2 separate regions of the Homo sapiens genome follow, and region 2 is linked to region 1. The links come from fine-mapping of genetic effects on gene expression. A gene starts in region 1. The other region holds a variant in brackets. All regions are shown on one strand. Distances are from middle to middle.

Region 1 (4,343 bases):
AATCCCAGCACTTTGGGAGGCCGAGGCGGGTGGATCACGAGATCGGGAGTTCAAGACCAGCCTGATCAACATGGTGAAACCCCGTCTCTACTAAAAATACAAAAATTAGCAGGGCGTGGTGGCACGCACCTGTAATCCTAGCTACTCGGGAGGCTGAGGCAGGAGAATCGCTTGAACCCGGGAGGCGGAGGTTGCAGTGAGCTGAGATGGAGCCACTGCACTTCAGCCTGGGTGACAGAGTGAGACAATGTCTCAAAAAAAAAAAAAAAAAAAAAAGTGGGGCCAGACACAGTGACTCACACCTGTAATCTTAGCATTTTGGGAGGCCTAGGTGGGAGGATCACTTGAGCCCAGGAATTTGAGACCAGCCTAGGCAATAGAGGGAGACCCTATCTCTACCAAAAAAAAAAAAAAAATTGTAGTGGCGTGCACCTGTAGTCCCAGCTACTTGGGAGGCTGAGGTGGGAGGATCACTTGAGCCCAGGAGGTCGTGACCACAGTGAGCCGTGATTGGGTCGCTGCACTCCAGTCTGGGCAACAGAGCTAGACCCTGTCTCAAAACAAAAGCTAAAACATTGGCCCAGCACCAATTGTGTCAAATAGGAAGGCAATGGAGTTAAACAGAGGCTGAGGATGCCTGTCCATCCCGGAAAAACAGCAAGTTGATTTCCCTGGTTATACTTACTAACTTTGCTTAATAAGTTAACGTAGCCCTGGCCCTTCACTTTGCTAATCCCATCTTTTACACCGTTTTGCAGGACAAGTGAGATAGAAGGGGCCAACCAGCTACTGGAGCTCTTTGACCTCTTCAGGTACTTTGTTCATCGGGAAATCTATCCAGGCAGCAAGATCACACACTTTGAGAGGTATGCGGAGATAAGGGAGGAGCAGGGTGAGAAAGTATCAGAGAGGCCTGGGAAACCAAGATACTAGCTTGGTTACTCCTGCCCTGTCTTGAATAGGTTGCAGCAGAAGACTGGAATTCCTTTCTCCCAGATGATCTTCTTTGATGATGAGAGGCGGAATATTGTAGACGTCAGCAAACTGGGTACTGAGTGATGAGGAACAGCCATTTGGGGTCCCTAGGAGGGATTAGGTAGATACATACAGGTTGGATAGTTTGCCCTATAGGTGGCACTCACAAAGGTCAGAGTAATAATGGAGAACCCTGAAAGCTTAATGAAATGTGACTTCTTATCTTTCTAGGTGTTACCTGCATTCACATCCAGAATGGAATGAATCTTCAAACTCTAAGTCAAGGGTTAGAGACATTTGCGAAGGCCCAAACTGGGCCTTTGAGGTCCAGCCTTGAGGAGAGCCCATTTGAGGCCTAAACTGAAAGGAAATCAAGAAGGCATTTTCAGGTGCATTTGTAATTTATTAAAGTTCATCTGTGTGTGACAGAAGAGATTTTACCCACAGTGTGGGGAGTTTCTATTTTTCTAGCCTGTGAAATGGGGTTGGTTGTCCTGAGGTGCAGAGACCAGAATGTGAGACATTAGACTGCATCAGGTTTGCCATCTAAACTTAGGGCAACCCCAAGTGCTTGAACCTATACCACCCCACTTTCCTGAGCTCTGTAAAGAGCATGAAGTTTTCCCACTGACCCCATACACTGAGGTGCCATCACACTGCACATTTCCTTCCGGAGAACAAGCACGTACTCAGGTGGAGATAGAACTGTCTTTTTACTTAATAGAAAATGATGTGGCAGCTTTAAGAGGAGCGCGTCGGTCTGGGGCTGGTGGCTTGGGTCACGTGACACCGGTGGTCTCGTTTGCGCCTCTTGATGTCGCGGCGGCGCCCTGAGGACGGATTGGGCAAGGCTGGTCCCTGTGTGATGAGACATCACCCTCCCAGGAGCAAGGCGGAAGTCTGGAGGACGCTGAGGGGCGGAGGCGGGAGAGGCGAGCTCGCGATGAGTGGTCTCGGCAGGCTCTTCGGGAAGGGTGAGCCAGGGTGGGACTGGCCAGCCAGGAGGCGCTGGCTGGTGCAGGGGAAGAGGAGACCCCGGCGAGATTCGGCCGGACCGCTGCGCCGGGCAGGGGAAGAGAATCAGGAGACAGGCTGACTGGAAAACCCCGGCGGCCGATGGCGGAGCAAGGCTCATCGCCGGTGCCAAAAGGCACACCATGTCGGGGCGCCTTGTTCCCGTCCGCCGTCCTCCCCCACTCTCAGAGGGAAGAACTCAAGATCTGGGAGGGGACTTGAGTTGAGGGCGTGGCGATCGTGCTGACTCCCACTGTTCAGGCTTGAAGACGAGTTTCCTGCTGTCTTCAGCCATTTTCAAAACCTTGTTCTATAATACTTTGTGCTGGGCAAGAGGGATCTAAGGTGAAGAAGAAAGACTGCCTTCTTAGCCCGGCGCGGGGGCTCACGCCTGTACTCGCAACACTTTGGGAGGCCGACGTGGGTGGATCATGAGGTCAGGAGTTTGAGATCAGCCTGGCCAATATGGTGAAACCCCGTCTCTACTAAAAATATAAAAATTGGCCGGGCGCGGTGGCTCACGCCTGTAATCCCAGCACTTTGGGAGGCCGAGGTGGGTGGATCACCTGAGGTCAAGAGTTCGAGACCAGCCTGGACAACATGGTGAAACCTTGTCTCTACTAAAAATACAAAAAAAAAAAAAAAATTAGCTGGTTGTGGTGGCACGCGCCTGTAGTCCCAGCTACTGGGGGAGGCTGAGACAGGTGAATCGCTTGAACCCAGGAGGCGGAGGTTGTAGTGAGCCAAGATTGCACCAATGCACTCCAGCCTTGGTGACAGAGGGAGACTCCATTCTCAAAAAAAAAAAAAAAAATTAGGTGGGCATGATGGTGTGTGCCTGTAGTCCCAGCTACTCAGGGAGGCTGAGGCAGGAGAATCACTTGAACCCGGGAGACGGAGGTTGCAATGAGCTGAGATCATGCCACTGCACTCTGGCCTGGGCAACAGAGCGAGACTCTGTCTCAAAAAAAGAAGTCCTGGCGCGGTGGCTCATGCCTGTAATCAAAACACTTTGGGAGGCCGAGGCGGGCAGATCACCTGAGGTTGGGAGTTCGACACCAGCCTGACCAACATGGAGAAAGCCTGTCTGTACTAAAAACACAAAAAATTAGCCAGGCATGGTGGCACATGCCTGTGATCCCAGCTATTTGGGAGGCTGAGGCAGGAGAATTGCTTGAACCCAGGAGGCGGAGGTTGAGGTGAGCTGAGATCACGCCATTGCGTTCCAGCCTGGGCAACAAGACTGAAACTCTGCCTAAAGAAAAAAAAAGAAAGGCAGCTAGGAATAGTAAAAAGAATATTGGTTTTAGAACTCATACTGCCACATCTTGATTCCTGCACAATCTCTTATTAGTTGTGATTTTTAACATCTTTGTGGTTGTTTTCACATTTTTAAAGTGAAGAGATAGCACGTTCATTGTAGAGATTTGGGGATTAGCAATAACACAGTCAGGTCTCTAGCACATACTATGTATTCAATGATTGGTGGCTAATATTTTTCCTTCACAAAATTTGGGCCTACTCCACTGGACTCCTCAGGGAAGAAGGAGAAAGGGCCAACCCCTGAAGAAGCAATACAGAAACTGAAGGAGACAGAGAAGATACTGATCAAGAAACAGGAATTTTTGGAGCAGAAGATTCAACAGGAGCTACAAACAGCCAAGAAGTATGGGACCAAGAATAAGAGAGGTAATGAGGGAAACAAGCCTATGGGGAGGGCCCAGATGGGAAGCAGGTGCTTCTGACTCTTGATGTTCAGGGTATGGGCTGGGTCAGCTGCCCTACAGGCTTTGCGGAGGAAGAAAAGATTCGAACAGCAGCTGGCACAAACTGACGGGACATTATCCACCCTGGAGTTTCAGCGTGAGGCCATTGAGAATGCCACTACCAATGCAGAAGTCCTTCGTACCATGGAGCTTGCTGCCCAAAGCATGAAGAAGGCCTACCAGGACATGTGGGTACGGGGGGAGGGGTGGAGGGGACCCAGGCACTGGGAAGAGTGGCTTGCTATCACACTTTAAACTTTAAAGCCTCTCAGAATGTGAATTTGCAGTATAGATACTTGTGATGGCTAGACATCCATCTGCCCCTTGCTTCCTATAAAATTCTTTCGCTGCCTGGGGCATTCTAGGGAGGAAAGATGCCTTCTCTAATTCTTTTTTTGTTTTGTTTTGTTTTGTTTTTTGAGATGGAGTCTTGCTCTGTCGCCCAGGCTGGAGTGCAGTGGCACAATCTCGGCTCACTGCAACCTCCGCCTCCTGGGTTCAAGTGATTCTCCTGCCTCAGCCTCCTGAGTAGCTGGGATTACAGGTGTGCACTACTGTGCCCAGCTCATTTTTGTATTTTTAGTAGAG
Region 2 (4,315 bases), 36 kb before region 1:
TGCAAATTTGTAAGCAGTCAGGACATAGCCTAGCCATTAAGTTATAGACTTAATTTATAGACTTCCTATCATACTACGTTCTATTATATATCCCTGCCTCCCTCCTTCAGAGAGCTCAGAAACACCTTCAAGATAATCAGATCCCACTCCTCCTTTTACTTTCACTTCCATTTTATGACCCAGAAAGTGAGGAACAGAGAAGTTAAATAGCTTCTCATAAGCCTCACAGCTAACAAGTGGTAGAAAAGGGAGTAGAGTGGTCCAGGGAAACCCCTCAGAACCAGGTTCCAAGCCAAATGCTTTGCCCTGAAAAAAACTCATCCTTGGAGTTAGGGATGTTGGCTCATTCTCTTAGAGGACAATAGTTAATGCACAGGTTCTATGTCTGGAAAGGGTCCCCAGCGGCAGGCTTGGGTTGAATAGGGCACCAGAGGTAAGGTTTAGGCAAAGGCAGGAAGGACAAATTCCCACAGGCACGAGCAAATGCAATATAAATGCAGTCATGTTCAGTGTATAAAATGAAACGTGCAGATTGCTGGAGGAGCTCAGAGAAGGGTGAGTTTCCTTTTCCTAGAGGCAGGAGGTGCTCAGGGGAGCCGTCACTGAGGAAGTGGTGTGCCAGGCCTTGGAGGAAAAGTAGGCCTTCACAAGGACACCCAGGGTGGGGAGGCAGAGCTGGGTGCTCATTCCACACAAGGCAAAGACTGCAAAGCATGACTGTGGAGGTGAGTCTGGGGAAGAAGGCATTCGGTAGGGCTGCTCAGCAGGAGGAATGATGGGGGGTGATGAGGCTGTGCAAGTAGCAGGGACTGGGTCAGAGTGAGCCTGTGTGTCAAGTTAGAGAGCCAGGATCGTGTGCCACAAGCACCAAAGGAGCACTAAATCCTTGAAGGATTTAGTTCACCTCTGAGTGGTTAGCAGAACAGAATACAAAAGTGGGATGCGAGGCAAGGAGTCCCGTTAGAGGACTAGTGAAATCATGATTCCCAGGGGAGGTCTGGGAATCAATTTTTCAGAGGCCCATGTGGAAAGGAGAAAATGAAAACACTGGTTGTGTGTGTGTGTGTGTGTTTGTCCACCCACCTCTCTGTCTCTCTCACACACACACACACACACACACACACACACAGAGACATAAGGGTTTATGTCCATTTAAAGATGTCTGTTGTCTGTTCTTGGGAAGGATTTTCCTTTTTTTTCAAAGATAACATCCTTCTAATGTTTTGGTGTGTGAAAATGCTCTTTTCTCTTTGGAACGACGATCATAGCAGAGAGTGATTACTTTTCTTCAACCTATGCTCTTGTCAAAACTGAAAGTATTTGAAAATATTGTGTTGGGCCCCCAAAGTCTCATTTTGAAGTTTTCTTGGTTTTGGAAACCCCAGGTGAGATGAGGATGTTCTGTCTGGGGCAGGAGCAGTGGTGATGGAGGGGATGGCATGAGAGGCCTCTGCGGTGGCATCAGCAGTCTTTGTCCAGGTGGATGTGGGAGCAGGGAGGGAGGAGTCCCAGACGATGGGGAGAGTTCCAGCACAGGCAGCTGGTGGGTGGCTGCTGAGCTGGCTATGCAGAGGCGCCCTGGGGATCCTGGTCTTGGGTGTGGAAATTTCAGGTAAGCCTGGAATTGTCTGAATGGGTCCACCTCCTGCTTCTTCCTCCTGACTGCCCTGGATCAGCTCTTACTCCCCACTCCACCCCCAATTACTCCAGGCCCATGACCTTGTCTCTGCCCACAGGGACATTGGAGGCAATGAAACAGTGACACTGCGCCAGTCGTTTGTGCCTGTGCGACCAGGCCCCCGCCAGCTCATTGCCAGCTTGGACAGCCCACAGCTCTCCCAGGTGCACGGTGTCATCCAGGTGGATGTGGCCCCAGCCCCTGGGGATGGGGGCTTCTTCTCAGACGCTGGAGGTGACAGTCACTTAGGAGAGACCATCCCTATGGCATCTCGAGGTGGAGCTTAGCCC[C/T]GTGCCAGGAGCAATGGGACTGGAGTCAGATGAGCAAGGACATTGCCCCAAGATAGGGGCACACTACAGAGCAGCTCCCCAGGAGCTCAGGTGGGGAGTCCAGGGCTCCCGGAGGGGGAGTCCAGGGCTCCCGGAGAGGGAGTCAGTCTTCACTTGCACTGGGGGAACAGATGCTAATAAACTGTTTTTTAATGAAGCTGCTGCTCTGTCCATCTTTCAGTCCATGCCACACCAAGACGGATGGAGCCATGGTTTGTCCCAGGGCTGCACATGGCCTTCCTGTATCATCCACTGATAGGGGCTGGTGTCCCTCACCAGAGAGAGGGAACCACAAGGGAAGTTGAGGCTCAGAGAGACAGAGTCGATACTCTTTGTATAACTCTCTTCTACCTGGAAATTTTCCTGTGGGTGAGTTTTGGAGGATTTTGGCTTTGGTTTGAATGAAACTGTTCCCTTACCTCAGGGTTTTTCAAGTGTAGTCTCTAGACCACTTCTATTACAATCACTGAAATGTTTATTAATAATCCAGATAGATGGGCCCTACCATAGACTTCATGTGTCAGAATCCCCGTGGAAGAGGCCCAGAACAAACTCACCAAGAGTTTGACTCCTGTGCACACTGAAGATCAAGAACGATGCCCTTTCATTTTTCTTCTCAGCTGTTCTTTTTTCTGCATTCCCACTGCCTGCATTCTTCTTGGGCTAGCAGTAGCCATGAGATCATGTACCTGATATTCTGGTCCTGAACGCATGTCTTCTTGAACCTTTAAGTTTAGAAGGCTTTCAAGACAAAGGGCTCATGGGGCAGGAAAAAGAGAGCTAAAATTGAGCTGTTCCTACTAGCTGTAAACACATGAACAAGGTGCACACCTTGAGGCATCAGTAGTGTAACATGCACAAGAAGAAACAAGCCCTTCCCTTAAGGTGCTCCTGTCCAGTGGGGGTGACAGACATGCAAACATTCTAAATACAGTAAATGCGTATGTCACACTTACCAGGAACCAGGCTCCAAGCACTTTATGAATTCATTTAATCCTTACAATAACCTTATGAGATAGGTTCTGCATGGTAGTAGAGGGATGTTCAGGATGCTGAGGGGCCCAGAGAACTGTGATTCTGCCTGGGCTGATACAGAAAGTCTTCATGAAGGTGATTACCAGATGACCCATGAAAGATGAGAAAAAGTCAAGTCCAAGAGGCAAAGGACAGAGGAATCACCCAACACGTGTAAAGCACAGACATGTGAGACAACACAGTATGTTTGGAAAATGCAGACAGCTGGATGAGGACTGGCATATGGGTGCATGATGAGTACAAAGTGGCAAAGGATGTGCATGAAGAGGTAAGCTTGGGCCAGTTCATTAAAAATCCTTTTGCCATATTTAGGAGTTTGGACTTTCTTCTGAAAGTAAGGGGGAGCTTTCAATTAGGGATGATATGATCAAGTTTTGCATTTCACATGATTCATAATGAAAGCAACATAGAAAAGAAATTAGAGGGGTTGGGCTGGAGGTAGGAAGATAGAGTCCTCTTGGGATGAGAGATAGGAGAACCTGAATTAGGGTAGAAGCAGTACGAATGAAAAAAAAAGGGTGGGTTTGAACGTTGTATAGGAAATAGAACTGATTAGACTTGATAACAGATTCAATTTGGAGAGGAGGGAGGGCAGAGATAAGGGTGGTGGCCTGAGTTTCTGACTCATGGGTGCCACGAAGAGAGGTGCCATGCACAGAAATTCGAAGCTCAGGAGGAAGACCATATTATAAAAGGGAAGGTAGACCAGGCACGGTGGTTCACGCCTATAATCCCAGCACTTTGGGAGGCCAAGGCAGGTGGATCACAAGGTCAGGAGTTCGAGAGCAGCCTGGCCAATATGGTGAAACCCAGTCTCTACTAAAAATACAAAAAAAAAAAAAAAATAGCCACGCATGGTGGCACATGCCTGTAATCCCAGCTACTCGAGAGGCTGAGACAGGAGAATTGCTTGAACCCGGGAGGTGGAGGTTGCACTCCAGCCTGGGCGACAGAGTGAGACTCCATCTAAAAAAAAAAAATGAAGATAACGACCTCTGGTTTTTAGTCTGGCCTGTAACAAGCTTAGGAGTCCTCACTCCTGTCCTCACAAAGAAAAATGCTGAACAAACTGAAAGTCAGCAACTCTTGTTGGATCTATCAGAGAATTGAGGGCACAGGGCAAACTGCTGCCCCTAAAACTGGAGAGACAAAAAGGCAGATACAGAGAATCACAACTTAACAGCAGAAGCCCAGAAACAGAAACAGAAACAGAAACTTCTGGGGAGCCAGTACCAGGGTAGGAAAACTTAAAGTGTAATTGACTCATAGCTGG

Alleles and levels. Alleles are on the strand shown, and positions count from the first base shown. SD is a standard deviation of normalised expression in the study named.
For the expression in hypothalamus of the gene that starts at base 1,870 in region 1, C is the low allele of the variant in region 2 and T is the other (moderate effect, 0.44 SD a copy in GTEx).

Evidence for each region. PIP is the estimated chance that this variant, and not a neighbour inherited with it, causes the effect.
Region 2: its variant is the best candidate, but not a certain one, in a credible set for the expression of CHMP4A in hypothalamus (GTEx, PIP 0.51).

The regions. Positions count from the first base shown.
Region 1 is chr14:24,211,015-24,215,357 of GRCh38, reverse strand. CHMP4A (charged multivesicular body protein 4A) reads left to right here and starts at 1,870. Exons shown (of 6, transcript NM_014169.5): 1 at 1,870-1,949; 2 at 3,529-3,678; 3 at 3,766-3,943. The coding sequence starts at 1,919. It overlaps NEDD8-MDP1 (NEDD8-MDP1 readthrough), which reads left to right. Exons shown (of 7, transcript NM_001199823.3): 5 at 759-866; 6 at 963-1,048; 7 at 1,207-1,415. The coding sequence ends at 1,334. MDP1 (magnesium dependent phosphatase 1) reads left to right here. Exons shown (of 6, transcript NM_138476.4): 4 at 759-866; 5 at 963-1,048; 6 at 1,207-1,415. The coding sequence ends at 1,334. RefSeq lists enhancers at 1-566, 1,721-2,015, 1,652-2,151, 1,579-2,387, 2,342-2,461.
Region 2 is chr14:24,246,963-24,251,277 of GRCh38, reverse strand. It overlaps TGM1 (transglutaminase 1), which reads left to right. Exons shown (of 15, transcript NM_000359.3): 15 at 1,737-2,164. The coding sequence ends at 1,965. Among named protein-coding and RNA genes, the nearest start is that of TINF2, 6.5 kb to the right of the region's middle. RefSeq lists enhancers at 1,409-1,558, 4,156-4,315. The variant C/T (reference allele first, on the strand shown) is at 1,969.